Linked DNA regions of Homo sapiens: region 2 is linked to region 1. A link means that fine-mapping ties the variant in region 1 to the expression of a gene that starts in the linked region. Tissue or cell type: cerebellum. Region 1 holds a variant in brackets; the other region holds the start of a gene. All regions are shown on one strand. Distances are from middle to middle.

The links.
Region 2: PRKCB starts here. The variant in region 1 is fine-mapped to the expression of PRKCB in cerebellum (GTEx, PIP above 0.99). The same link has a PIP of 0.9 or more in cerebellar hemisphere and lung.

Annotation. Positions count from the first base shown.
Region 1 is chr16:23,848,674-23,864,220 of GRCh38, forward strand. The region is part of intron 2 of PRKCB (protein kinase C beta); the gene reads left to right. Among named protein-coding and RNA genes, the nearest start is that of PRKCB, 20 kb to the left of the region's middle. RefSeq lists an enhancer at 4,847-4,936. The variant G/T (reference allele first, on the strand shown) is at 8,943.
Region 2 is chr16:23,827,577-23,843,123 of GRCh38, forward strand. It overlaps PRKCB (protein kinase C beta), which reads left to right and starts at 8,407. Exons shown (of 17, transcript NM_002738.7): 1 at 8,407-8,772; 2 at 9,799-9,830. The coding sequence starts at 8,600. RefSeq lists silencers at 7,903-8,542, 8,573-8,652, 8,983-9,062 and enhancers at 8,016-8,563, 8,564-9,109, 9,373-9,512, 14,592-14,641.

The sequences.
Region 1 (15,547 bases):
TTGGTGTTTTGGAGAAAGAAAGGCTTCGATTTAAATCTTGACTTCTTGCTGTGGGACCTTAAGCAAGTTACTTAACCTCTTCGAGCTTCTGTTTTTTCATAGCTAAAAGGATATAATAATAAAACCTACTTTATGTGAAGTGTTTCTTAGCACCCTACCTGACATATATACAGTAAGCACTTGATAAATGGTAGCTATTTCTGTTCTTCCTAGGACTGGGCACTGTCCTTGTCCTTACTGAGTTTATAATCCTGTTGGGGAGGCAAGATGAATGCTCTTGAATCAAGGAGACGACGCAAGAATGGATGTGCTTACATGTCGTGGTCAATAGCATTAGCTGCACCTTACAGTGGATCTTAGAGAGAAATGCTTGGTTGGGGCCGGAGAGGTGATTTGAGTGTGAGTGAGCACAGTGCTTTCTGAGAAACCCTTTCCTGGCCTGCAACACTTTAATTTGTGGGAAACCTCAGGAAGTAGAATTGCAATCTGTGATCGCCCCATCGGCTGACCTCACTTCAAAAATGTATTGGTAGCATTTCAACTTTAAATAGATTTGTGACCATTTCACCCTTCTAAATTTGGGTTCCCTTCACCCTTTGGGTGGAGTGTTTATATCCCTTTTCGGTTGAAGAAGCTGACAGATAGTGTAGGTGAAGGTGGAGGGTGAAGTCTGAAGGACGGTCGCTTGTCTCATTGGGATAGTCAGGGCAGTGATTTTTGTGGGATGGCCCTATATTGAAGATCTTCTTTCCCTCCCTAAAGGTAGAGACCATTCTTTAGAGTTTAGTGAGTGCTGCAAATGAAGATTTGATCGTTATTTGGATTTTTTTGCATGTGTATGTGTGGATTTTTTTTGGTAGTTATCCAGATACATTTTGTGGCAAAATTTATGGCTGAGGGTATTGATAATTGTTTCTGAGACAAACAGTGCACTTAGGGAAACAGGATTGACATATAGAGTAGAGAAGGACTTCTTTTTATTTCAGTTGGATATTCATCTTTTGGTGGCTAGCTTTTTTTAAAAAAACTATTAATATTATTTTTGATTGACAAATCATAATTGATGGGGTACAATGTGATGTTTTGATACATATATACAATGTGTCATGGTTAATTCAAACTAATTAATATAACCATCAGCTTGTTTACTTATTTTTTATGGTGAGACATTTGAAATTTACTTAGTTATTTGAAATATATGATACACTTATTATTGACTATGTTACCCTGCTGTGCAATAGATCTCCAAACCTATTCCCCTTGTCTATCTGAAACTTTGTATCCTTTGATCAACAACTCCTTCCCTCATCCCAGATTCTGGTAACCATCCTCCTACTCTCTACTTCTATGACTACGACTTTATTAGATTCCACATATACGTGAGATCATGCTGTATTTGTCTCTGTGTTTCTGGCTTATTTTACTTAGCATAATGTCCTCCAGATTCATGTATATTGTCACAAATGATATAATTTCTCTCTTTTTTTTAAAGTCTGGGTAGGATTCTATTGTGTGTATACACCATACTTTCTTTATTCATTCATCCTCTGTTGAACACTTAGGTTGATTCCCTATCTTTGCTATTGTAAGTAGTACTGCAACAAACATGGGAATGCACATATTCTTTGACATATTGATTTCAGTTGCTTTAAATATATGCCCAGAAGTGGGATTACTTAAAAAAAATTTAATTTAATTTTTTTTAATTTGAGACTGAGTTTTGCTCTTGTTGCCCAGGCTGGAGTACAATGGTGCGATCTCAGCTCACTGCAACCTCCACCTCTCAGGTTCAAGACATTCTCCTGCCTCGGCCTCCCAAGCAGCTGGGATTACGGGCATGCACCACCACGCCTGGCTAATTTTGTATTTTTGCTAGAGACGGGGTTTCACTGTGTTGGTGAGGCTGGTCTCAAACTCCTGACCTCAGGTGATCCACCTGCCTTGGCCTTCCAAAGTGCTGGAATTACAGGTGTCAGCCACCATGCTCGGTGGTAGTTCACTTTTTTGTTTTTTTGAGAAACTTTTAGTACTGTTTTTCATAAGGCTATACTAACTTACATTCCCACCAACAGTGTATGGGTCCCCTTTTCTCTACATCTTCTCCAACATGTTATTTTTTATCTTTTTGATAAAAGCCATTCTAACAGGTGTGAGGTGATATCTCACTGTGGTTTTAATTTGCATTTCCCTAGTGCTTAGTGTGCTGAACATTTTTTCAAGTACCTATTGGCCATTTGTGTGTCTTCTTTTGAGTAATTTCTGTTCAGATCCCATTTTTAAATCAGGTTATTTGTTTACTTGCTATTGAGTTGTTTGAGTTCTTTGTATATTTTGGATATTAACTTCTTATCAGATACAGCATTTGCAAATATTTTTCCCATTCTGTGGGCTGTCTCTTCACTTTGTTAATTGTTTCCTTTGCTGTGAGGAAGCTTTCAGTTTGATGCCCTCCCATTTGTCTCCTTTTGCTTTTGCTTAATCATTGCCCAAACCAATGTTGTGGAGTTTTTCCCTTATGTTTTTCTCTAGCAGTTTTATAGTTTCAGGTTTTAAGTCTTTAATCAATTTTGAGTTGATTGTGTATGTGGTTTGTAAGATAAAGGTCTAATTGCATTCTTCTACATGTGGATATCCAGTTTTCCCAACACCATTTACTGAAGAGACTGTCCTTTCCCTCATTGTGTGTTTTTGGCACCTTTATCAAAAATCAGTTGGCTATAAATGTGCAGGTTTATATCTGGGCTTTCTATCCTGTTCCATTGGTTGATGCATCTGTTTTTATGCTAGTACCGTGCTGTTTTGATTACAATTGCTTTATAATGTATTTTGAAATTAAGTCGTGTGATTCCTCCAGCTTTGTTCTTTTTGCTCAATGTTGTCTTGGCTATTTGGGGTCTTTTGTGGTCCCATATGAACTTAGGGATTGTTTTTTCTATTTCTGTGAAAAATGACATTGGAATTTTGATAAGAATTGCACTGAATCTGTAGATTGCTTTGGCTAGTATGGACATTTTCACAATATTAATTTGTCTAGTCCATGAACACGGAATATCTTTTCATTTATTTGTGTTTTCCTCAGTTTCTTTCATCAGTGTTGTATAGTTTTCAGTATACAGATAGTTTGCTTCCTTGGATACATTTACACCTAAGTAATTTTTTTTTTGCTGCTATTGTAAATTAGTTTGTTTTCTTAATTTTCTGGTCTGGTAGTTTGTTATTAGATAAGCTAGTATATAAAATTAGAATAATTAGATAATCTAATATAGAAACACTACTGATTGTATGTTGGTTTTGCATCCTGCAGTTTTATTGAATTTGTTGATCAGTTCTAACAGCTTTTTTAGTGGATTCTTTAGGGTTTTCTGTATATAAAATCACCTTGTCAACAAATAGAGACAAGTTCACTTCTTCCCTTCCTATTAGGATGCCTTTTATTTCTTTCTCTTTCCTAATTACTCTGGCTGGGACTTCCAGTACTCTATTGAAAAGAAAGGGTGAGAGTGGGCGTCCTGATCTTAGAGGAAAGGCTTTCAACTTTTCAGTGCTGAGAAGGATGTTAGCTACGGGTTTGTCATAATAGAGCCCATAGTGTTTATTGTGTTGAGTGCATTTCCTTTATACCTTATTGCTGAGTACTTTTTTCATGAAAGAATGTTAATTTTTTTCAAGTGCTTTTTTTTCCTGCATCTATTGAGATGATCATATGATTTTTATCCTTTATTTTGTTAACATGGGTATCACATTTATTGATTTCTATGTGTTGAACCATCCTTGCATCCCAGGGAGAAATCCCACTTGATCATGGTGAATAAAATTCTTTTAATGTGTTCTTCAATTTGGTTTGCTAATATTTTGTTGAGGATTTTTCCATCTATGTTCATCAGGGATATTGGTTTATAGTTTTCTTCTCTTGTGTTTTTGTTTGGCTTTGGTATGATAGTCTTGGATAATGAGTTTAGAAATACTCCCTTAATTTTTTGGAAGAGTTTAAGAAGAATTGATTGACATCCAGATCAAGAAACAGAACATGCTGGTACCCTAGAAGCATCATCTCACAATCCCTATCAACCGTATCCTTCAGGAGTAATCACTATCCTAACCTCTATCACCTATGATTACTTTCATCTGTTCCTGAACTTATGCCCACTTTTCTGTTATGCAACTCCATTGACTTATGCCCATTTTTCTGTTAAAAAATTTAAAAAGTGCAGAGCTTTAAGTTACTGAGGCTGAGCCTGAGAAATGTTAGCTGGGACTTTTTTAGTTTTGCATAGAGGAAGTGAAATCCGTATGGGAGACAGGCACCTTCTGGAATCACCCATTGGGGAATGGTGCCGTTTGCCTTCTTTGGGGAACATCTGCTTCCTGTTTCAATGTTGCCCATCGGTTCCAGACTGTTCAACAAGGAAGCCAGGGCATTCTGACAGTTTTTCCACACAATAATTTAGCTCTGTAAATACTAGGAAAACTTGAGCTCACAAACTATTTTTAGGGCTTAACATTTCAAAAATTCTGTATTAGTAAGAATCTATTAAAGCTGCTGTAACAGACAAACCTTGAAGTCTCTGTGGCTTGACAGAAGGGAGTTTATTTCTTACTCATGTCACTAACCAGTGCAGGTGGTCCTGGTCAGGACATCTTCCACAGAGTCACACAGGACCCCAGGGTCCTCCCCATTGGGCCAGTGGAAGGGGAAAGGGAAATTGAGAAAGCACACTCATTTCACAACAACTTCAGCTGGGGAAGGAAGTCACATCACTTCTGCTCACATTCTATTTGCCAGAACCCAGGCAAAGAGGCAACCAACGGAAGGGGGTCCTGGGACATGTCGACTAGCTCTATGTCCAGGAGGAAAAGAAAACAGGTTTTGATGAACTCAGTAAATCTCACTCCAGTCTCCAAAGCCATAATTTCCTTTGTCTTTCTTTGCGGTGATGTATCTAGTTTTATCTCTCACTTGACTGGTAAAACTAAGATGCAAAACTCTGGACGTCTTTATCTTATCAAACATAGCAGGGAAAGAGTGAGTTCTATTTGTGTTCCTAAAAGTGAAATAAAGAAGCACTTTTCTTGTTTTTAGTTATTAGAACAATCTGGCTCTTGTCAGACTTTCTAGTTTTTCAATCAGTCAGAATTCTTGCCTCTCTGGTTGCCTGTTGTATTAATCCATTCTCATGCTGCTAATAAAGGCATAACTGAGACTGGGTAATTTATAAAGGAAAGAGGTTTAATTGACTCACAATTCAGCATGGCTGGGGAGGCCTCACAATCATGGCAGAAGGCAAAGGAAGGTCAAGGCACTTCTTACATGGCAGCAGGCAAGAGAGCGTGCACAGGGGAACTGCCCTTTATAAAACCATCAGATCTCGTGAGACTTATTCACTATCACGAGAACAGCATTAGAAAACCCACCCCCATGATTCCATTACCTTCCGCCAGGTCCTTCTCATGACACATGGGGATTATGAGAGCTACAATTCAAGATGAGATTTGGGTGGGGACACAGCCAAACCATATCACCTGTGGACATCCCAAGCAGATCTCTTTGAGGCCGGGTTAGTTCTCTTCTAAGCTGACTTGTTATATAGAAGAATCCTTTGTTGGTTCTACTTCCAGATATTTGACTGGACACCCAACAAATCAATTATCTATTGCTGGATAGCACATAACCTCAAGGCTTAGTGGCTTAAAGTAGCCACTGTTTTATTTAGTTTTAGTTTCTGTGGGTCAGTAATTTGGGCTGGGCTCAGCTGGGTGGTCTGTCTGATCTGGGCAGGGATTGGCTGTTCTTGGCTGGGCTCATTTACCTTCCTGGGGCCTCAGCAGGGATGTCTAGGACAACTGGGGCCTCTCTTCAGGTCTTTCATCTTCCAGTGGGCTATCCTGAGCATGGTCATATGCTGATGGGTGCATTCTCTGGGCATGAGCAAGGGCTGCAGGGCTTCTTGAAGCCAAGGCTCAGAACATGCATAACATCACTTCTGCCATATTCCCTGGTCAAAGCAAATCACAAGCCCACCCCAGAAGTAAAGGAGGAAATAGAGAAGAGAATAGAGATGCCTCCTCTTGATGGGAGAAGCTGCAAATAATTTGTGATATTTTTTGGAACCCACCACACTAATTTCAGTGTGGTCCTCGCAATTGCTTGGCTGTCTAAAAACATACTCCAGTCTAGTGTGCATTTCTGAAAATGAACTTGATCAAAGGCAGGCCCCAAATGAGTGCTCAACATTTACACCTGATAATAATACTACCTACCTCCTAGGGAAATGGTAGGGCCAGATGAGATGCTGTATGCAAAGGATACGGCCAGGACTTAGTGCACACGCAACACTGAATACTACCACCATGACTACTGAATACTGCCATCAAATACTACCGTTACTACCACTTGGCACTCCCTAAAAGCTTGAGATTCAGAGAAAGGAAGACAAAGCCCCTGTACTTGAGGAGGGAGAGAATAAAGAGAGCCGGCGGGGGAGGGGGTGGCAGGAGAGAGAGAGAGAGAGAGGCGTGTGAGTGAGTTCTTGCAACACAGTGTGGTCAGTGTGATCACAGAGCTGTGATGGAGTGCGGATGAGGTCTGATGACTTACTGGTCAAGAGCATGGGTTCAGGCCTCAGTTCCTCCCCAATCACATGTGGGGTCTTAGGCATCTTTCTTTTTAATCTTCAGTTTCTTTGTCTGTGAAATGAAGATAATGGCACAGAGCCTACCTCCCAGAGTTCTATGTGGATTAAATGAGACAGGCAAACAACAACAAAAACCACAAACAAACAAAAAACAAAAATGAAAACAAAAATCATGTGATTGCTTATTAAATGTTAGTTATAGAAAAAAATATAAGTTCTTAAATGTGCCCTTGTAAAAATGTCCTAAAGACCTCATCTTTATTTAGTTCTTCTGCAACTCTGGCTAGCATCATTGATAAATTGTCTTAAAAGATGAAGATTTGTATGCAGGTGGTTTATTGGGGATGTAGCTCTTGGGAACAACATCTATAAGGGATAGAGGGAAGCAGGGAAGAGGTAGTTGAACTGTGGTGCAATAGTTGTAATAGAGGCCAAAGCCAATTCCATGGCTGGAGCTGAGACGGCCCTTCAGAACTGGGACAAGCCAATGCATCAAGTGGGCATTGATTGTGGGCTGCTCTTTGGAAGGCAGCATTACCTTGGGCAAAGCAGCTCCCTTCTTCAGGGGAGGAGTCCCAGGGAGGACACAGCTGTGAGCAATTGGTTTTCCCAGCAGCTGGGGGAATGAGTGCCTTGTCCCTATAGATGGTTTTGAGGGGGCTGCATTTGGGGGAATGCCTTCTGGGGTTCACTGCGTGCTTCTATGTCTTTCTTAGAGGTTCATTTCAAACTATACCTTGGTTCATTCACAGTACTGATTTAGTTACTATCCAGATTCATAGACTGTACTTGCTGGCACTGGAATATCATGGACAGAGAGTCCTAATCTGACTAGGCCTAGGGAATGACATGGGAATAGCTTGTCCTGGGTCATCCAGCTACCAGAGAGGAGAGCTGGGATTCATATCCAACCAACGATACTTTATACCTCACATTACTTCTGTTATGCTACACACTCCTGAGTCACAGGAGATTCCAACTTGTATTTCAAGCCCAGACTGCATGACTTCAATGTCCTGTTGCCCTTAACCCCTGTATCAGATTGCAGCCCCACTCTGGAAAGTTTTCTTGAATTCTTCTATGTATGTTTTTTAAACTGTGGGTCATCACTCATTAGAAGTTCATGAAGTCAATATAATAGGTCAAGAATACCATGAAGAAAGCAGAACAGAAAATATCACAGTGCATCACTCTCAGGAAGGGTAGATATTGTTTCACGAAACTTTTTTTTTTTTTGAGACAGGGTCTTTGTCTGTCGCACAGGCTGGAGTGCAGTGGTACAATCATAGCTGACTGTATCCTCAACCTCCCAGGCCCAAGAGATCCTCCCACCTCATTCTCATGAGTAGCTGGGACTTGAGGCACATGCCATCATGCCTGGCTAATTTCTAAAACTTTTTGTAGAGATAGGGTCTCCCTATGTTGCTCGGGCTGGTCTCAAACTCCTGAGCTCAAACAGTCCTCCTACCTTGGCTTCCCAAAGTACTGGGATTATAGGCATGAGCCACTACTCCTGGCCTCATACAATTTTTATTTGATATAAACATATATAGCCATGAGTGAACTGGGTCAAAATGTAAAATGTGTCTCTTACTGCAGGTAACTGTCAATGTAGTTCGAATATCACTGTGAAATATATAGAGAAGAGGCTCTGGGGGCTCATGAACTTGGCCCATGGACTGTTGAGGCTTTTTTTTTAATCTTTAGAGATGATATAAATGTAGTGCTTTGAATTCTTTATAATTAGAAGTTTTATTCTTACCCCATCACCATGTCCCAAGATAATTTTTATTATCATCTTTCAGCTTTAACATATCACAGACAAAAGTTATTTTTCCAAATAGAATTTTAAGTATGGTATAAGAGGTTTTTAGAAATGGAATGATTGGTTTTGGCGGAACTGCCTGGCCTGACCTGTCACTCGGGTGAAGTGTCAGAGAGCTGTGTCGAATGCTGGCGGAGAACTGTCCCTCTCCTGCAGAGAGAAGGAGCTGCTTATCCTGGGGGATAATGTGGGTTGAGAAAGAAGTGTTTTATGAGCAGAATCAGCACAGAGGGAGGGAGGAGGAGGTGTTTAGGGGCTGCAGAGAGCCGCCAGAAGATGTGGGAACAGTATGCCAGCACGGAGGTGGGTCAGATCCCCATGGTGGGACTCTGCTGAGGGTTGCCTCCAGCCGAGACTTCCAAGGGCTGGGATTCAGTGTGTGTTTATGTTCTCTGGTGTGCCTGATAGGTGGGGGCCCACATGACAGCTGGCCTCTCTGTGTTTCCCTTCTGGCCGTCTCTGATTTGGGGCCCAAGGGCCATAGG[G/T]GGGCCAGGGCACTCCAGATGGGACGAAAAGTCAAGTCCAAGAAAAAAATGAAATCCGGGCTAGGCTTGTCCCTGCTTGAGGATGTGAGAGAGAGAGAGAGAGTGTGTGTGTGTGTGTGGGTGTGTGCGCACGTGCGTCTGCAGTCCCTAGAAGGATCTCTATTCATTGGACAGAGAGGCCAAGGGAATTTTCCATTTCCTGGATGTCTTCAAAGATTTCAAATGCCATTAACTTGAGCTGACATTTATTGAGTACTCACTCGGTGACTGGCACTGTTCTAAGTACTTTACATGTATTAACTTATTTAATCCTCACAACAGCCCTGTGTGGCTGCTACTGTTATTGTTGCCATTTTATGCTGAGAAAACAGCACAAAGAATTGAGAAATTTTTCCAAAGTTACAGTTAGGATTCAAAAATAGACTTGGTTTTAGGATTGTGTAACTTCAGAATTGATGGTGACAATGACGTTGATGATGAGGATGATGATGATGATGATGAAGGCAGCTAATATTTCAGTGTCTGCAATGAGCTGGGCATTTTCACAAACTTTATCCCTTTGAATCTTTACCTTCCACTAAGATTTGCTGCTATTCTTATCCCTTTTGTAGATAAGAAAGCAAGCTTAGAGAAGATAAAACATTTGCTTAAGTAACTGCAGAGCGTAGATTGAATTCAGGTCCATTCGAGTCAGACTGTCTGTTCACCAAGGTGAAGGGCTCCGGGGGTCACAGAGGAGCACCATGGTGAGGAAGGCCCCGTAAGAGTGTGGCAGAATGGCAACCAGGAAGGATCTGGTATACGGGATGGTGATAAGGCCCATCTCTCATGGCCAGGAAAGTGTGCCTGCCACAGCAATGAATGAAACTGGCAACATTTGACAGGAAGGGGAAATTCTCTAGTGGGAGGAATACTTCCATCAAACTGTTTTTTTTTTTTCCCAGTGGGGGAGTTTGCACATGTGTAGATTTTTTTAGCCATAGCCTTGAATAAGGAATTCAGAAAGTGGCTTCTAGTTTGAGGACTTTCATTGGCCACGTGATCACAGTAGGCTGATTTCTTCATGCCTAAGTTACCAGGCTGGGAGGACAGGCTGAGAACTATGCAAGCTGTTGAGTCACTTGGAAGGAAGAGGGTTACATACAGCAGGCACTTTCATGGAATAATACTTCCCTGAAGAGCTGCACTAATTTATTGAGGCACTGAGCTGGATGCTTCACACACATGATCTCATTGAATGTCCACAGCACCCTAGGAGGTTGATCTCATTATTAACTTCATGAAGTGACTGAGGCTTAGAGATATTAAATAGCTTCCAGCCTGGGAAACATAGTGAAACCCCATCTCTGCAAAGAATAAAAAAAAATGAGCTAGGTGTGGTGGCTCGTGCTTATATTCACAGCTACTTAGGAGGCTGAGGTGGGAGGATCCCTTGAGCTTGTGAGGGTTGAGGCTGTAGTGAGCTTTGATGGCACCACTGCACTCCAGTCTGGGTGACAGAGTGAGACCCTCTCTCTAAACAAACAAATCCCAGGAGACATTAATTAACTTGCCACTGGTCTCTAAGCTAAGTAGTTGAAGAGGGCAACAAACCCAGGTGGTCTGACTCCTAGGCTTGAAGGTCCAGGTTCAGCTACTCCACCAGTATCCCTGGTCAGTCTTTGGCCAGGGCACAGAAGGTGGCATATCAAGTTGTGGGGTCTGATTTGGAAAGTGTGAGATCCCTCCTTTGTATCTTTTCCAAAGTCCACTCAGAAGAGAGTAGTGTAAAAGGAGTGATAGCACAGCGTGGTCTGGCTGGCATAGTCAGCCGCCCTGTGATGGGCAGGGGGAAGCTGCTTTCTGTCCTCAAGCAGCCCCTAAACTTGTAGGCCAGACTCATAAATCACACATTGATAACTCAGTGTGATGTGTGCTGTAATGGTGGAGAGGGGGGAGAAATGCCAGGAGCAGCTCACCTCCCAGGGTCCTGGGGAGGCTGCACAGAGGAGCCTGAGTTCTCAGTTGGGTTTTGAGGCAGAGGAAGCAGTGAAAGAGAGAGGAAGAATGTCAGTGAGGTGCGGGGAGAAGCAAGAGAGAGAAGACACTTGGCAGGAAGAAGTAGTTGAAGTACCCGGGGATGTTTAGCTTGAAGAATAGAAAATTTGGAGGAGGCAGAGAAAAGGCAGGAAACTTTAAAAGCAGGAGAGAAAGACCTCCAGGTTCCCAAAGGGAGCATGGCACTTCTCAAGGGGGTGAGGTTGACAGCATTAGGAGAGAGAGAGAGAGAAAGAGAGAGAGAGAAAGAGAGAGAGCGAGAGAGTTGTCAAGGAAGGGAAGGACCCATGGAGGGGAGAGCACAGGTGAAAATGAGAAGTGATGGGAAAATGGGTGGGAAATAAATGAAGTTTTGAGGCCAGTTGAGAAATCTTGCTTGGTGGTTTCTATTTTCTTTGTGAAGCAGAAAAAAAGAGGAATTAGACAGACCTGCATTCAAATCTCATGACCCCAGGCAAATTTCTTATCCTTAGCTTCTTCATTTTGAAAAAGGGGTGAATGATAATAGGACCTACCTAATAAGAGTTGTCAGGATCAAATATGTTAGTGCTTGTGTAAGATGCAGTGGCACCCTGGCACTTAGTACCAAAAAAAAGTACTATAAATGTTGTCACCTATTGAGGGAGTCCGGGTTTGGGTGCTTGATACATAGAAATATCATGAATAGCAGCAGAGAATACAAGAAGAAGAGAAAGCTTGGGGGAGAAGATAGAGAATTATGCGTTGGGTATGTTGAGGATGAGGTGCCTGTGCCATATCCGGGTGTAGGTGCCCAAAGGCAACTGGAAGTCATGAGAAGTCAGGGATAGAGGTAAATGTTTGGGAGTTGTTAATACAGGGGTGCATTTTTAAAATATCTGAAGTATGTTACTGGTGGCACTCAAAGATTTTTAATGATGTAAGGTATTCAACAACATGGAACTACGTAGTTTTAAAAGAAATTCTCTTGTAGGCCGCGTGTGGTGGCTCACACCTGTAATCCCAGCACTTTGAGAGGCCAAGGTGGGTGGATCACTTGAGGTCAGGAATTCCAGACCAGCCTGGTGAACATGGTGAAACCCCATCTCTACTAAAAAAAAAAAGAAACAAAACAAATCAAAACAAAAAAACCGGGCATGGTGGTGTGTGCCTGTACTCCCAGCTACTCGGGAGGCTGAGGCAGGAGAATTGCTTGGACCCGGAGTCAGAGGTTGCAGTGAGCCAAGATCGCGCTACTGTACTCTAGCCTAGGCAACAGAATGAGACTCAGTATAAAAAAGAAAAAAATGTTTTTTTCTTTTAATTCTTCGGGTTAAGGAGAGTGTCTTAGTTTGGTGCTATCATGTCCTAAACATCTTTCTAATGCATGCAAATCTCCCTTTTAAGCTAAAAGAATGAAGCAATCTCAGACTCAGAGCTATGTACCTGCTAGAATTTAATAATTTAAATTTTCATTGTGTTCTTCATACTCACCTTCTATTTATAGCAAGTGTTACTAGCTCTCCAATTCTGGAGGTTGTTTCAGATAGGATGCATTAGTTCTTTTTTTTTTTTTGAGACAAGGTCTTGCTCTGTCACCCAGGCTGGAGTGCAGTGGCACAAACACAGCTCACTGCAGCCTCAACCTCCCAGGCTCAAGCAAACCTCCCACTTCAGCCTCCCAGGTAGCTGGGACTACAGGCATGTCCCACCATTCCTAGCTAATTATTTTATTTTTTATAGAAACAGGGTCTCACTGTGTTTCCCAGGCTGGTCTTGAATTTGGGCTCAAGCAATCCTCACACCTCCGCCTCCTAAAGTGCTGGGATTACAGGCATGAGCCACCATGCCTGACCTGCTTTGGTTCTTAAAAACAGAATATCTGGCGAGCCTAACAAGGAGGCTGGTGGTTCCAGGGTTGGTTTAATCAAAGACTTAACACTGTCATCAAGCGCCTCTCAGTTATTTGCTCTGCCATCCTCAAAATGTGATCAGTGTCTCCCTTCTTGGTCCCAGGAAGGCTGTGATAGCTCCCAGAATCACATACTCACAGGGCAAAGCAGGAAGGAAGGGGACATAGGACAAAGGATTTGTGTTTAAGTATTTCATGTCACATTTGCATGTGGTGCTTGGAGCTGTGGCAGCTATGTTTTGACCATGAGGGACAAGGTTGGCAAGCTGTAAATGGCAGTGTAAAAAGAGGGAGAGGATCTGTCTCCTTCACAATATCCTTGAGCCCCTGAATTCACTAATCTTGATATAGCTCTATCTCTTGAAATTTTGTTTTGTTAGATAATTCTCTTACTGCTTAAAACGTCTTAAGATGGGTTTTCTGTTCTTTCCAGTAGAATGCATTGTATCTCACACAATTTGAGGTTATTGCCTCAACCTACTCTGAATCATTGCTCCTCCCCCTTTTTTCCTGGTTGATTAGCTTCTCTTGAGATTGTGTCTTATCTTCCTGGTTTTTTGTATGTCGGGTAATTTTGGATTGTATCCTGGACACTGTAAGTGTTGTGCTGTGGAGACTCTGGATTCATTCGTATTTCTCTGAAAAGCATTGATGTTTTTGTTTTAGTAGGCCATTGACTTGGTTGGACAGTAGACTGTCTCTGGGACACCAGCTCAGATGTCAGTTCTGTTTTTTATTTTATCCTTGAGTCTTCTTTGGGACTGCCCCATGCATGCATGGTTCAAGAGTCAGCCAGACATTTGGGTGGGGTTTAGACACAGAATTTGGGGCTCTTCTCTCTTGGCTGTCTCTATTATGGAATTCCTTCCTCACTTTCCAGAAGCCGTGAGTGACCTGAAACCTGTCCTCTGGTTCTGTACACCAGAAAGACTTGAGGCTTCATGTTGAAGTTTTAGCTGACAGCAGCTTGCGTTCAGGGGAAAAGCTGTAAAATGACCATTCCCTTCTTCCAAGTTTCAACCTCTCTGCAGAATCTGCTTTCTTTTGTTCACTTTCGAGTAATTTCAGGAAAAAATTTTTTTTTCGTTGAGAGTTTTTACTTGTTACCTATGGAAAGGTTGGGTCTAGCTGAAGCTTGCTTGCCCATAACAGAAACGAGACTCTTTTCTGTCTAACACATGGGAAAACTAACGCCCAGAGAGGTGAAGTCATTTCCCCAATTGTCAGAGGCACTTGAGCCAGAGTGACTCCATCTTGAGTAAGGGCTAGGAAAATAAGACCGGGACTTGCTGGGCTGCATTCCCAGAAAGAAAGGTATTCCTAGCCTCTAGATGTCTACAGTTAAGGGAACAGATTGATAATGTTTACTAAACAGAGCCAGGCTTGGCAGTGTCCAGCTATCCCGATATCTTGAGAACAAAGGCATTCCTAATTTTGCTTTAAGGATAATAATATTGATTATTGCAAAACAGAGTAATTAAGAAAATTAATCCTTTATCACAAACCCTTGTAGCAGAACACATCTCTCCATGATTTTTAAAATCATATATATATGATTTATATATATGATTATATAATATATAACATATATGATCATATAATCATATATATGCATGTGTATGTGTATATATATACACATGCATATATATGTATATATGTGTATACATACATACGTATATATGTGTATATATACATACATATATATGTGTATATATATACATATATATACACATACACACACACACACACACACACACACACACGAATATTTTACCTAGGGTGGACGTGCTCCTTCTCTTACTTTTAGGAACCCCCTACTCTGTCTATGGAGTAACTGTTCTTTCACCACTTTACTTTCTTAATAAACTTGCTTTTGCTTTGCACTGTGGACTCACCCTGAATTCTTTCTTGTGCAAGATCCAAGAACCCTTTCTTGGGGTCTGGATCAGGACTCCTTTCCTGTAATACAATGTCACAGAGCTCTTAAGTGGCAGAGCTTGGGGCCAAACTTAGGCTGCTGCACCCGATGTCCCAGCTCCTCTGCCCTATCTAGCTGTGGATTTGTGCCTCGAAATAGAATTGCATTTTGAATGCAGTTTCATTTTCGTATGGAAAGTGTCTATCCTGTAAATGTAACTGTAGCAGCCCCAAAGCTGAGCTGGGCAGTTTTATGGCAGCCTGGAGTCAGTCTTGTCCGCTTCCAATCAGGGTTCCTGGACTGGCTCCTATATTAAAATTGGTATTAGTAGACAATGTTCCAGGCAGAGTTTTGGATAGAAACTATCCATCAGCACCAAGAATGTGCCTGATTTGGTAATCTTTTTACCAAAGTAAAAGTCAGTAGTAAGTTGTGGTTAAAAGAGAGGAAGTTCAGAGTTCAGTACGTTATTTCTCTCTCTCTCTCTCTTTGTTTAAATAAAAGAGGAAGTTACTGCTCTTATTTTTGTACCAGCCCGTCAGTAATGGGTACAGAGTAAAATCTTAGCTAAGCTGAGGTCAAACTTCAAAACTTAGTAATAAGGATCTCCCTTGTTCCTTTGTAGGGCGACTAACATGAAGGTTCTGACTCTTAACCCATAGAGCCACAAAAAATAGTCCTAGGAAAATCATATGATTTTATTTATTTTAGGAACAGAAATGGTCCCTTCCGAAGTAGAGGCATTTCTACTTCTTTCCTAAACACCATCTCTGCTCAGTG
Region 2 (15,547 bases), 21 kb before region 1:
ACAACAACAGCAACAAAACCTAATCTATGATGATGAAAGTCAGACAGTGGCTCCCTTTTGAGGTAATATTTCCTGGGAAAAGGTACAGAAGAGTTTCTGGGGAACTAGAACTTTTCTGTATGTTGACCTGGTGGAAGTCATGTGGGTATATACATATATAAAAAACATAGTCTGTTGCATGTACAGCTTATTGCATAGATGTTATACTATAACAAAAAAGTATTTTAAAGAAGGTAGCCATCTGCTGGGCACAGTGGCTCATGCCTGTAATCCCAGCACTTTGGGAAGCCGAGGCGGGCAGATCACGAGGTCAGGAGTTTGAGACTAGCCTGGCCAACATGGTGAAACCCCGTCTCTACTAAAAATACAAAAAATTAGCTGGGCATGGTTGTGAGCACCTGTAATTCCAGCTGCTCAGGAGGCTGAGACAAGAGACTGCTTGAACCCTGGAGGTGGAGGTTGCAGTGAGCTGAGATCGCACTACTGCACTCCAGCCTGGGTGAGTGGCTCCATCTCGAGCCACTGGAGTGCAGTGGCTCAAACTTGGCTCACTGTAACCTCCGCCTCCCAGGTTCAAATGATTCTTCTGCCTCAGCCTCCCGAGTAGCTAGGATTACAGGCACATGCCAGCATACCTATCTAATTTTTGTATTTTTAGTAGAGATGGGGTTATACCATGTTGGCCAGGCTGGTCACGAATTCCTGACCTCAAGTGATCTGCCTGCCTTGGCCTCCCAAGTGCTGGGATTACAGGTGTGAGCCACCGTGCCCGGCCCATCTTAGCTATTTTTAAGTGTAGTCCAGTGATGTTAAGTGCATTCATGTTGTTGTGCCACCATCACCACCATCCATCTCCGGAACTCTTTTCGTCTTGCAAAGCCAAAGCTATACCCATTAAACAATAATGCTCCATTTCTTCCTGCTCCCAGCCCCCAGCAACCACCATTCTACTTTCTGTCCCTATGATTTTGACTACTCTAGGTACCTCATATGTATTAGTCCATTTTCTGTTGCTTATAACAGAATACCTGAACCTGGGTAATATAAAGAAAAGGAATTTATTTCTTACAGTTATGAAGGCTGAGAAGTCTAAGGTTGAGGGGCCACATCTGGTGAGAGCCTTCTTGTTGGTGAGGACTCTCTGAAGATTGCAGAGGTAGCTCAGGGTATTATATGGTGAGGGGGCTGACCATACTAATGTACTTGTTCAGATCTCTCTTCCTCTTCACATAAAGCCACCAGTTCCCCTCCCATTATAAGACATTAATTTATTAACCCATTAATTCACTCATGAGGGCAGACCACATCATGATCCAACCATCACTTAAGGGCCCCACCTATTAATACTACCACACTGGGGATTAACTTTCCAACACATGAAATCTGGGGGGGTGGGGGAGGCACATTAAAACAATATCGTATAAGTGCAATCATACAGTATTTGTCTTTTTATGACTTGCTTCTTTCACTTAGCATCATGTTCTCAAGGTTCATACATGTTGTAGCATGTGTCAGAATTTTCTTCTTTTTGAGGCTGAATAATATTTCATTGTATGTATATGCTACATTTTGCTTATCTTTTCATGTTTTAGCTACTGTGACTAATGCTGCTGTCAACATGGGTACAAATATTTCTTTCAGACCCTGCTTTCACATTTTTTAATTTCAACCTATTTGTGTCTTTGGATCTAAAGTAGGATCTCTTTATTATTTATTTCTTTATTTATTTTTGAGATGGAGTCTTGCTGTGTCACCCAGGCTGAAGTGCAGTGGCTTGATCTCGGCTCATTGCAAAGTCCACCTACCAGGGTCAAGTGATTCTCCTGCCTCAGCCTCTGTAGTAGCTGGGATTATAGGTGCCCACCACCACGCCTGGCTATTTTTTTTTGTGTTTTTAGTAGAATGAGGTTTCACTACGTTAGCCAGCCTGGTCTTGAACTCCTGATCTCAGGTGATCTGCCTGCCCTGGCCTCCCAAAGTGCTGAGATTACAGGTGTGAGCAACCATGCCTGGCCTAAGGTGAGTTCTCTTGTTGTAGACAGCATATAGTTAGGTCGCATTTTTGAAAATCTATTCTGCCAATCTCTGTCTTTTGATTTGAGAGTTTAATCCATTTACATTTAAAGTAATTACTGAGAATGAGAGACTTACTTTTCTCATTTTGATATTTGTTTTTTATATAACTTATAGCTTTTCTTGTTCTTCTTTTCCTGCATTGCTATCTTATTTTGTGGTTAGCTGATTTTTTTTTTTTTTTTTGCAGTGAAATGTTTTAATTCCCTTCTCATTCCCTTGTGTGTATATTCTATAATTATTTTCTATGTTGTTACCATGGGGATTACATTAAAATCCTAAAGTCAGAATATTCTAATTTGAATTCATACCAACTTAACTTTAATAACATACAAAATCTCTGCTTCTAATACCTCTGTCCCCATCCCTTTCAGTTATTAATGTCATAAAATTACATCTTCATACATTGTGCACCCAAAAACATAAAGTAGTAATTTTAAATAATGCATTAGTCTCTTAAATCACGGAGAAAACAGTAAGTGGATTTTATGATGATATTAGCTTTTATAATTGCCCATGTATTTACTTTTACTGAAATATTTATTTCTTTACATTGCTTCAAGACACTGTCCAGTGCACTTTGATTTCAACCTGCTGGACTTCCTTTAGTTTAGTATTTCTTGCATGGCAGCTCTAGTGGTGACAAACTCAGCTTTTGCTTATGTGGGGATGTCTTAATTTCTCTCACTTTTGAAGGACGGTTTTGACAGTTAGAGAATTTTGGGTTGATTATTTTTTCTTTTAGCATTTTGAATGCATCAGCCCACTACCTTCTAACTGCTGAAGTTCTGATAAGAATCTGCAGATAATCTTATTGAGGATCCCTTGTATATGATGAGTCACTTCTCTCTTACACTTTAAAGATTCTCTTTTTGTCTTTGGCTTCAGACAGTCTGATTATAATGTCTTGGTGTGGGTCTTTTTGAGTTATTCCTACTTGAAGTTTGCTGAGCTTCTTGGATGTTTATATTCATGTCTTTTATCAAACTTGGGGAGTTTCTGGCCATTATTTCTTCAAATAAGCTCTCAAATAATTCTCCTTTCTCTTTCTCTTTTTCTGAAATTCCCATGGTACGCTGTTGGTTTGCTTGATTGTGTCCCACAAGTGTTTCAGGCTTTGTTCACTTTTTTCAATCATTTTTCTTTTCGTTCTTCAGACTCAATAATTTCAATTGTCCTATATTTAAATTTGTGCATTCTTTTTTCTGCTTGCTTAAATCTGCCTTTGAAACCATTTAGTGATTTTTAAATTTCATTTATTGTATTTTCACCTCTAGAATTTCTTTTTGGTTTCTTTTTGGGTTTTCTATTTTTTTATTGACATTTCTGTTATGTTTATGCATTTTTTTAACTTTCTCCATGTCTTCCTTTAGTTCTTTGAGCATCTTCAATATAGTTGCTTTAAAGCCATTGTCTAGTAGGCTCACCTTCTGATCATTCTCTGGGACAGTTTCTGTTGGTTTATTTTTTCCCTTTGAAGGGGCCATACTCCCCTCTCTCCCTTCCTCTCTCCCTGCCTTCCTGCCTTCCTTCCCCTCTATCTCTTTCCTTCTTTCTCCCCCTGTCTCTCTTCCTGTCTTTCTTTTTTGAGATAAGGTCTCACTCTGTCACCCAAACTGGAGTGTGGTGGCACAATCATGGCTCACTGCAACCCCCAACTCTCAGGTTCAAATGATCCTCCTGCCTCAGCCTCCTGAGTAGCTGGGACTACAGGTGTGGACTACCTGTCTGGCTAATTAAAAAAAAGTTTTTGTGGAGATGGGGTCTCACTATATTGCCTCAACTGGTCTCAAACTCCTAGACTCAAGTAGTCTTCCCACCTTGGCTTCCCAAAGTGGAGGCATAAGCCTCCACCACACCTAGCCTTTTCTTGTTTCTTACTATAGGTTTTTAGTTACAATTAGTAGCAGTTCTAAGTGATCTTGAGAGTTGCCACATTTCAAATGCTCAGCAGCCACATGTGGGTACTGTGACAACTGTGTTGAAGAGTGCAGCCTTAGAACAAAGGGATTGAGGCCGAGCGCGGTGGCTCATGCCTGTAATCCCAGCACTTTGGGAGGCTGAGGCGGGTGGATCACCTGAGGTCAGAAATTTCAGACCAGCCTGGCCAACATGGTGAAACCCTGTCTCTACTAAAAATACAAAAATTAGCTGTGCACGGTGGTGCACGCCTGTAATCCCAGCTACTTGGGAGGCCGAGGCAGGAGAATGGGTTGAACCTGGGAGGCGGAAGTTGCAGTGAGCCGAGGTCGCATCACTCCACTCCAGCCTGGGTGACAGAGCAAGACTCTGTCTCAAAAAAAACCAAAACCAAAACAAAACAAAACAAAAAACAAAAGAATAAAGGGGTTGAGAGGCAAACTACTGTATCCTTGTCCTACCTTAGAGAAGAGGAAAATGAGACACAGGAGGAAGTAAGTGACTTGCCCAGGGTTATGCACTGTAGTCATTTAAATGGTAGCCCCCAAGAAGGTACATCCATGTTATAATTCCTGGAACTTGTGAATGTCATTTTATTTGGCGAAGGGGTCTTTGCAGGCATAACTATATTAAGGATTTTGAGATGAAGAGATCATCTCGGATTATCCAGTGAAGCCCTAAATCCAAGGACCAGTGTTCATATAAAAGATATACAAGGTATAGGGCCAGTGCAGTGGCTCACGCCTGTAATCCTAGCACTTTGGGAGGCTGAAGGCAGGCAGATCACCTGAGGTCAGGAGTTTGAGACCAGCCTGGCCAACATGGTGAAACCCTGTCTCTACTAAAAGTACAAAGATTAGCCGGGCATGGTGGCGGGTGCCTGTAATCCCAGCTACTTGGGAGGCTGAGGCAGGAAAATCACTTGAACCCGGGAGGCAGAGACTGCAGTGAGCCGAGACCATGCCATTTCACTCCAGCCTGGGCAACAAGAGCAAAACTCCATCTTGGAAAAAAAAAAAAAAGAAAAGAAAAAAGAGATATACAGGGGATATTAGAGAAACAGAAGGGGTGAAGATAGGCACACAGAGGAGAGGGTGATATAAAGACAGAGGAGGATGGGAGCGATGTGACCACAAGCCAGGGAAGCCAGGGAATGCTGACAGCCTCCAGAAGCCACAAAAGGCAAGGAAGCGTTCCCCTCTGAAACCTCCAGAGGGAATGTGGCCCTGCTGACACTGTGACTTATGGTTTCTGGCCTCCAGAATGATGAGAGAATAAATTTTTGTTATTTCTAGCCACCCTGTTCTGTTATAATTTTTTATGGCAGCCACAGGTCTGGAGCAAAGGGACCTTGGACTCCATTCTCAGCCACAGCAACCTGCCCCCTCACTGCCTCTGAAATCTTTCAAGTGACCAGCATTCACTCCTTCATGAGCAGAGTGGGCCTGGGGGGCTCTGGTGGCAAGGAGGACCCATGCCCAATCTACGGGGAGCTGCTGCCCTGCAGCTCCTGTTGGCACTATGCCATGTTGCCCTAATCTCTTGCCTGATCTGCTCAGTTGACCTCTTCACTGCTCTTCCTGCCTCCACCCTTTCTCCTCTAATTTCCACATAGTAGCTAGGGTAAGCTTTTAAAATGAAAACCCCATAAGTTGTATCAGGCCACTCCTCAGCTTCCAACCCTCCAATGGCTTCCATTCACTGGAGTGAAATCCAAACTCCTTATCACATTTGCAAAGCCCTTTGGGGCCCTGCTACCTCCCTGACCTCATCTCATAAGTCCTCTCTCCTCTCTGTTCATCCAACCACTGAGGCCTTCTCGCTATTTCTCCAACATACCAAGCTTGATACTCCCCTAGGCTCTTTGCATTTTCTGTTTTCTCTGTCTGGAAACTCTCGATAGTCCCCTGGCTCACCCTCTCACTTTATTCAGGCCTTACTCAGATGTCCCCATATTATAAAGGATTTCCCTGTGGTCTTTATAATAATGCTTTATTTTTATTTACAAACATTCTATTATACACCACCAGGTATGGATTCGTTAGTTGGTTAGGTTATTACTCCCCCTTCCCCATTAGACTATAAGCTCCACTAGGGCAGGGACCTTTGTCTGGTTTGTTTAACAGTATCTGGAACAGCACACAGTAGGTGCTTAATAAGCAATTTGTTGATTGAAAGAACAAATGTATGAGTGAGGGAGGAATGTAGGCTCCATTTAGCTCTATCTTTTTTCCTAGATAAGTCAGAATCTGGATATTTAAGTAAAATTCTATGACCCGTGAACTTAAAAAACAACAACAACAACAACAACCCACTGGGCTAGCTTAAAAAAAATAGAGCATCTGGAGCCACCAGTTTGAGACCCTGACCTACAGGAATCTGGGTCCAATGGGAACCACATTTCTCATCCTCACTTGGTGCAACGCCTTCAGGAACCAAGTGGCTCTTTTCCATCCACAGCCCTTGCATCCCCAGGCCCCGGCGCCATGAGGTACTGTTTGTTGTTACAGACCAAAGTCATCCAGGGCACTTCATTCAAAAGGCAGGATGTGGGCTGTGAGCTTCCAGCTCATCAGTTCAAAGGAAATCTACTTCAGCAGCAATGTCTCCTGGGATGTTTTCCCAAGCCTCCCTGGGAGGTGGTGGGGCCTCTTCAAGGACTAATAATAGACAGGCACATCCAGTTTCCCAAACATGTCAACCTTAAAAGTGAATGCTATTTTTTCCTCCTTACCTTTGAATTACTATGTAGGAGAGGGACATTCTATTATTGCAGCCCTTGCTCTCGACATGCTACCTAATAATGACTTACCACTCAGCAGCTTCCAGGCAAAATTGTCATAGTGGGACCTGAGCTCGTGCAACTCCAGCCTGCCCCCCTTCATCCACCACTACTCAGGTTCACCCCTTTGTCACCAGGATGCTTTGTAGTCAGGCCAGCCCAATCACCATTCAGCAACGGTATGACTGTGGGTGTATCTTAATCACTCTGAACCTCCCCATCCTTATCCATAATGAAAGTTACCAGATCTACATAGGGTTGTTGCGGGGGCTAAATAAGACAGCACAAGTACCTGATGCCCAGCAATCACTTGATATTTATTATTAAACACCTACTGGGTGTGAGTGGGGGTAAGAAGTGCCGACCTTTAAGTCTTCATTCATTCACTTGTTCATCCATGCCCTCACTCAATCAACCAATATTTACTGGGGTCTTGGGAGGTGTCAGGCACTGAGCTTGGTGCTGGGCGACATGGTGGTGAACAGCCCCCCTGCTCTCACAGAGCCTAGGTCTGGTGAAGGAGCTCACAGCCTAATGAAGCTCTGCGTTCCCAGAGTGGGGGACATGGTGGCAGTGGGTATCTTTAGGCCTTGTGCATGAACAGGGCGCTAAATAACATTGAATTACACATTGTAGACAATTATTACCCTTTCAGTTACCTTCAGATCACATCAAGGAGAGAGTCCTGGTTGGATAGTAATGTCTTTAACACCCCTCTAGCATTTATTAATTTCCTCTCTTAACAAATAAAAGATGACTTCAGTCGAAGATGCTTAGGACAGATGACGGCACCTGGAGATATTTTAATAATGTAGATACCTCTTGCTGTTCAAACTCAGACCAAAAGAGATAGGCTTTTTTTCCCCCAGAGGGTGCACAAATACGACCAGAATTTGTGAAGACGAGTCAGAAATGAATGAAATTTGGAAAAATATTGATCTACTGAAATCCTTCCTCCCCACACTATTAGCCCTATGTTACAGTTGGGGAAACGGAGTCGTTTTGCAGAGGGGATGGACAGAAGGTAGGGAGTTCTCTTCCAAACGTGCAGGAGGCAAGCAAAGCCAAGAATCTTCTCTGTGGTGGAGTTAGAGACATATAAAATAAAGATCGCTCCTCCCCTACCTCTGCAGAACGTGTGTGTGTATGTGTGTGTAAGTGTGTGCGGCCACAAGCCTTTCCGAATGAGTGACAGCGGGAGCCCATCCCTCCAGGAGACGCGTGCAGAATGACCAATGGGATGGATGGGGGTGGATGGGTACCAGTCTCCGCAGAGGCCGGGGTGGAATTCGCTGCGCCCCACCCCTTCCACCCGCTCCCCTTCGCCCCGTAGGTCTTTCCACTCTCGCTCCTCCCCTGGGCACATCTCCTGAACGCAGCCCCGGGGGCCGAGGACGGGGTGGGGTGGGGGGCGAGGCTCGGGTCCGACGACCCCGGGCTGCGGTCCCGGCGCTGCAGAGCTGCGGCTGTGCACGCTTAGCCGCGAGGCCCGCGGTAGCCCGGGCGCCGATATGTAAAGCAGCTGGCAGCGCTGGGCGGGGCCTGGGCGCGATGCAAATGAGGAGGGCGGGGCTGGCCCGGGGCTCCGCCTCCCTCCCCCGCAGCTGGGGCCAGCGGTGCCAAGCGCAGCTGGACGAGCGGCAGCAGCTGGGCGAGTGACAGCCCCGGCTCCGCGCGCCGCGGCCGCCAGAGCCGGCGCAGGGGAAGCGCCCGCGGCCCCGGGTGCAGCAGCGGCCGCCGCCTCCCGCGCCTCCCCGGCCCGCAGCCCGCGGTCCCGCGGCCCCGGGGCCGGCACCTCTCGGGCTCCGGCTCCCCGCGCGCAAGATGGCTGACCCGGCTGCGGGGCCGCCGCCGAGCGAGGGCGAGGAGAGCACCGTGCGCTTCGCCCGCAAAGGCGCCCTCCGGCAGAAGAACGTGCATGAGGTCAAGAACCACAAATTCACCGCCCGCTTCTTCAAGCAGCCCACCTTCTGCAGCCACTGCACCGACTTCATCTGGTGAGCGCGCGCGCGCAGGGCACCTTCCCGGGCCCCCGAGGGCAGCGCCGCGCCAGGGACCCCCTCTCCGCGCCCTCTGCGCCCTCCGCGCCCTCCGCACCCTGGGACCCCGCGTCTCCGGACTCCCGGCTCCGGACCCTGCTGCCCGGGACTCCCGGATGGACAGTCCTGCCGTTGCCCTGTCCCCACCCTGGTCCCAGACGGGCCGCCGCGGGGCGCCTCCTGCCCTCTCCTGCTCTCAGGCGCCTCTAGAGCGCCCAGGGGCGGCGTCGCGGGAGCCTTTGCTCCACCTGACTAGGAGCGCGCGGGGTCTGTGCCTGCCCTGGAGGGCAGCGCCTCGGGTGCTCTCCGACCCGGGGTTCCCTATCTCTCCGCCTGCTTCCGGGCGCGAGGAGCCCTCGCCCCCCACCCCTTGTTTCCGGGGGGGGCGGCGCCCTGGGTGTCCTTCTCTATCTCCCTGCGGGCATGGGACATCCTTTCTCACTCCTCTGTGCCTCCGGGCAGCGCCCTGTGTTATCTCCCATTGCCCCTCCCCGAGGGCCTGGGTTCCCCTTTCCACTCCTCGGTCACATCACTGCGGGCCCCTTTCTTCCCCAGTCCCTCCAGTAGTGGGGCATCCTTTCCTCCTTCCCAGTCCCCCTCCCAGAGGACACCACCGCCGCGGGGTCACTCTCGCCCTCCCTCTGAATGCGTCTTTATCTCTTCTCTTTTCCCGAGGGTGCTCGGGGCATCTATGGGTACATCTGTCGCCTGCCTTCAGCCCCTACCCCGACGGAAACGCTCCCCACTATCCCGCCACCTGGTGGTCGCAGCCTCCTCTCTTCTGCAGGAGTGAAGGCAGATGGGGGTTACAGCCGAGCTCCCACCTACCCCCACAAAGGCGGAAGACTCTTGGGCACCCGCCTGTGGCTGGGAGTTTGCACCTGGGGTACAGAGGCAGGGAGGAAGGCGGGTGACTCTGTGGGTAACTAGCTGGAGGCTGGGCCCCCCGGGCTGCCTGACATACACCTCCTTCTGCTTTTGCAGGGGCTTCGGGAAGCAGGGATTCCAGTGCCAAGGTAGGCTCTGGGGCTTTGGGGATGCTATTTGTGGGAAGAGAGGGTGAAAAATACTTTATAGAAGAAGTTACTGAGTTAGGCAGAGAGTGAAAGAATCACGTTGGTCGGAGTGACCTCCCAGGCTAGGAATTCTTCACCACAACAGGGTCCTTTCAAGGGGTGTGTGTGTGACTGGGGCCGATGGCGCTTGGGAGTCTTACATGCCAAGGAAGTTCACCTACCCTTCCTGCCTTCCCGGCTCTGGAAGAGTCAAAGCGGTCTCCTGAAGCAATCCTGGCATGGTCAGTTCCGCTGGGGGAGAAAGTGTTTTCCCGGGACGTTTCTGGGAGAACCTGTCCTCCTTAGTTCCCCTTTCTCTGCCCATGTCCCTTCCTTATCTCACCCAGGGAGGTTCTGCCTCTCCCTGCCTTGCAGAGGTCTCTGCAGGTGGCTGCCGCTCCTCTGCAGATGGTGCATCCCCTAGAAAGGCGACTGTGTTTGTCGCCTGGGCCTCCTCTCTCTCTGAAAGAAGTATTTCCAGAGGGAGTGTTTCTCAGATCCTGGTTTAAATCACCCTATCTTCTGGGTTGAAACAGAAAGGTCTCCAGGGCACTGGTTACCTGAGTTCTTGCATCTGGCTTGAGATCCTGGACTCTAACCAGGGGTATCAAACCTGCTGGTGGTGAGTTGATCACGTGTAAAGTGTCCCCCTCCCCCGTCTTTGGGGCTCATGTCTAAAAGACAGATTGCAAATTGGCTCTCCAGGACCAAAAGTTACCCGCAGCTCTGTGTAGCCCTTAGGGTGTCTTACTTGTGAATTTGATGTGAACGTTTTAGAACTGGGAGATTTCACATACACATCCTAATTTCCAACTTTAACTTTGCTGAGAAATGGTCTCACTTTCGCTTGAAAACAATCGTTTGGAGCTGAGAGCCGTCGTCGTAGATGGGGAACAGCCTTACCATTTTGTCTCAGTTGATCCCAGTGGGGAACACTTCACCCATTTCTGGCCCCTGTGGGCATTTAAGTTTGCAACCTCTCATCTGGAAAGTTTGTGTGTTATGTTTTCTTTTTAATTTAAATTTTAATTTTTCACTCTTGGGCTTGGTAAGATTGAGTTTGGTAAGAAACGGCACATTTCTGGGGTATTGTATCTTTAGGGGCAAAGTGACCACCACCCTGGTGAGCTGGGTTTAAATCAAAAGAAAGTATTTGAGTGTGGAAGAGTCTGACGTGATTTAGCACTGACTGACAGTTTTGTGGCTGCACCTCCACCCTCCAGGGAAAAGTAAAGTGATCCCTAGTGAGTGTAGGTGGCATCGTCAGTGGTGCAGAATGTTTGCTTGCTGGCAGCATGGCACTGTGCTCCTCTGAGACTCTTGCATACTCTTCTGAGATCGGGGTCCCGGTGGGCTCAGTGAGCCCTGCCAACCTACCCAGCCTGTCTTACCAAGATTTGGATCCTCTGCACCACACCAGAGGACTCCTCAAGTCTCTTTAAGTGGCAACAACTTAGGCCCTGGTGCAAACAAATTTGGATTGTTTTCTAGAACTTTGACCCCTCAAACAAAATGCCAATGGTGTCTTGGCACCGGAATGTGTAATTTCTTCTTTGAGGTTGCCTTTCACTTCCATGAATCAGTTTCAGTCTTTGTCTCTTGCTGAGATCGGGGGCGATTTTTAAACATTTTTACCACGGATCTTCTATGCCACCTGCTCTGCTGTTATTGATGGATGGGAAAGTCACTTTGGAATGTGCAAGGCATGACACATTTGAAATAGGAGATCCTTTAACTCAAAGTCTGGAAGATAATAGGAATTTTCTGATGTTAAGAGAAAAAGGCAGAATTAAAGTTTGTAATGAAATATGGGCGCTCTAGAGATAGGAGTGTCTTTTTTTTTTTTTTGACAGGGTCTCACTCTTTTGCCCCGGCTGGAGTACAGTGGTATGATCAGAGCTCACTGCAGCCTCAAACTCATGGGCTCAAGTGATCCTCCTGCATCAGCCTCCTGATTAATTGGGACTACAAGTACGCACCACCATGCCTGGCTAATTTTAAAACAACTTTTGTAGAGAAGGGGTCTTGTGATGTTGCAAGACTGGTCTTGAACTCCTGGCTTCAAGCAACCCTCCCACCTCAGCCCCCAAGTGTTGGGATTATAGGTGTGAGCCACTATGCCCCTCTGGAGTGTCTATTTTTTAAATTGCCTTTCTTTTTCTCTTCCCTGCCTCCCCACCAAGAGGCAGCGTAGAGAAGTGGGCATTTGCACAGGCTACCAGGCAAGTCCCTGTCGGTCTGAATCCTAGCTTTGAGACTTCCCAGGCATATTACTTAGCCTCTCTGTATTTCAGCCTCCTTGTCTATAAAACGGAGTCAGTAACAGTACCATAGTGTGGCTGAGCAGCTCCAACTCATTGCAATATCCAAGATTCTTGGACCAGAGCTTGACACAGAGTATGCTCAGAAAATATCTGCTCTTATGATTGTCCCCAGACTACCCCAATGGTGGGGCAGCTGGCACGAGAGAAGACTGGCTCTGCAGGGTTGCTTTGCTATGGAACTGCCTGCCAGGTAAGAGTCAAAACTCAGCCATGAACTTCTGGTCACTCTGTGTAGCTGCTTTGACAGCATATTCCATTTGGGCAGCAGTAGGGAGGAGTGAGGGGAGGGGCAGATTGGCAGTCCCTGAAATTGAGATGTTTAGAATGGGAACATATAGGAAAGAGGGAAATTTATCCCTGGTACTCAGCATTGCCTGGGACTAATTCTGGAACCACTGAGGAGTTCCTTAGTATCTGATTGTTCTTGGTATCAGATATTTCCTCTGAAAGTAAATCCACTTACGATGGAATCAACAGTTTATACAAAACACATAAGGTTTTATGATCTCACTTAAGTCAGCAATCCAGAGCCCAGGGCCTCAGGTTCCTTTGAGTTTTCTGCTCCACTATCCCTGGGGAGTGACAATTATCTCATGGTCCAAAAAGGATGCTAGACGCTGGAGTCCTCACACCCTTCTTTCAGCTAGCAGGAAGGAAGAAAGGGGTAAAGAAGGGCATATAGCACATGCTCGGTGTCACTTGTTTAAGTTGCTCAAGATCCTTCTACCTACATCCTCTTAGCTAGGGTTTAATCACATACCCACACCTTGCTGTGAGGGAGCATGTGGGAAATGTAGTGTTTATTTCAGGCAGCCACTATTTAGAGGATGTTTCCATTTCAAAAATACAAGCAGAGAGAGGATGTTGTCTCTGCCACTCTGGTAGGAGGTGTGTAGGATGATCGCAAGGCAAAGAAACCATTGAGAGTAACCTTCAGGCTCTATTACATTGTCATGGAAATTGGGGACACTGCTATGGGTTGGGAGAGGAAGGATGGAAAACTCATAAACCTTGGGAAATTATGGATTTCTGTGTGCTCAGGGGAGCTTAAGAATAGATTTTCTTGCTTTCGTATGATGATAGGACGAAACTCTAGGTTGACTGCCTCATAATTTCTCCCTTTTTGTTTCCACTCTGTCTATTTCTTATAAAACCACTCTCTGGGAGGTAATTTAAGAATGTGTTTGATGACAGGGAACTGGGGCTGAAGATCCCTATTGTAAAATTGCCTAAATTCTAGAGTAGAAGTGGAACTCCTTTGACAAGCAAGGCAGATTTCTCTCTATGGCATTTTTTTCTTTGCCTTTTATTTATTTATTTATTTATTGAGACAGAGTCTCACTCTGTTGCCCAGGCTGCAGTGCAGTGGCACCATTTCGACTCACGGTAACCTCCATCTCCTGGGGCTCAAGCGATTCTTCTGCCTCAGCCTCCCAGGTTGCTGGGATTACGGGGGCCTGCCACCACGCCTGGCTAATTTTTGTATTTTTAGTAGAGATGGGGTTTCATCATTTTGGCCAGGCTGGTCTTGAACTCCTGACCTCAGGTGATCCACCCGCCTCGGACTCCCAAAGTGTTCAGATTACAGGCATGAGCTACAGTGCTGGCTGTTTCTGTGGCATTCTTTACAGGAACTTAGGACCTGCATTTGAGCTTTAATTTTAATTAAAGTCTTCTCTAAGAAGATTTTTGGTAGAGAGAAAAACCTTCTTCTTTTATTTTAAATTTTGTTTTTAGAGACAGGGTCTCACTGTGTGGCCCAGGCTGGAGGGCAGTGACATGATCATAGCTCACTGCAGCCTCAAACTCCTGGGCTCAAGTGATTCTCCTGCCTCAGTGTCCTGAGTAGCTGGGACTGCAGGTGTGTGTCACCACGGCCCTTTTTTTTTTTTTTTTTTTTTTTTGAGACGGAGTCTTACTCTGTCATCCAGGCTGGAGTGCAGTGACGTGATCTTAGCTCACTGCAACCTCCACTTCCCAGGTTCAAGTGATTCTCGTGCCTCAGCCTCTTGAGTAGCTGGAACTACAGGCACGTGCCACCATGCCCGGCTAATTTTTATATTTTTAGTAGAGGTGGGGTTTCGCCACGTTGGTTAGGCTGGTCTCGAACTCCTGACCTCAGGTGATCTGCCCGCCTTAGCTTCCCAAAGTGCTAGGATTACAGGTGTGAGCCACTGAACCTGGCCAAATACATATTTTTTAATTTTAAAATTTTTTGTAGAGATAGTGGATCTTGCTTTGCTGCCTGTGCCTGGTCTCAAACTGCCAGCCTCAAGCCAGGAGTCTCATTCTGCTTTGGCCTCCCAAAGTGTTTGTTGTTTTTGTAAAGGAAGTGACTTTGGTAGAAATAGAGAGGCAATAAAATATAGAGATTCAGAATTCTTAGCAATGAGTTGGAGTCCAGTAGAATTGGGTATGTATCTCTGATGGAGCCGCTTACTCCCTGTGTGACCTTGGGCAAGTCGTCCCCCAGCAGCAACTTTGGTCTCCTCATCTGTAAAATGGGGATAATAGCACCTAACTCATAGGGTTATGGTGAAGAATAATGAGGTGGTGCATGAGAAATAGCCACAGCAAGTATCAATGACTCTAAGTGAGACCATCAGTATTACTTGATTAGCTGTAGGAAACTGTGTCAAAGTGGGACGGAGTTCATTCTGGAACTTGTTAAATGACTAGGCCTCTTTCATGTACTTAGATAGTTTCTCTTCTTGGGTATATTTCTTCCTGGGTATTGGGTAACACCAGTGAGTGCTCAGTTCAGTGTCTGGGCCCAGAAACCCATGCCTGGTTAGCATTGTCTTTTCTTCTGAGAAAGATCTGAACTTGCCATGGACTCTCTAGAAAAACCCCAGTGTACAAATTTTCTATGAAAAGCTAGAATTGATGATTATAATGAGTAAGTTGGCTCTTCCTTTTCCCATGTAGATTAGAAAACATGTTTTTAAATCTTCTAATTGAAATTATTCTTAAAAAACCCCAAAGTCTGACATGACTCCAACTATTGTTGTTTTCATCAATATCAATCCTATCAAATCAAAGTTTATTTTAGTGTGTAATTAACACATGTAGACTAGAAAAGTTTGCACTTTTTTATATCACAAAAAAGGTTAATTTTATTTTCTATGGAAAGCTAGAATTGATGATAATGAGTAAGTCAGCTCTTCTTTTTCCCATGTAGATTAGAAAACAGGTTTTTAAATCTTGTAGTTGAAATTATTCTTAAAAAACCCCAAATCATGACATGAATCCAACCATTCTTGTTTTTATCAATATTCACCCTATCAAATATAAAGTTTATTTTAGTGGGTAATTAACATGTGTAGATTAGCATAGCATATGTGTATTTATATA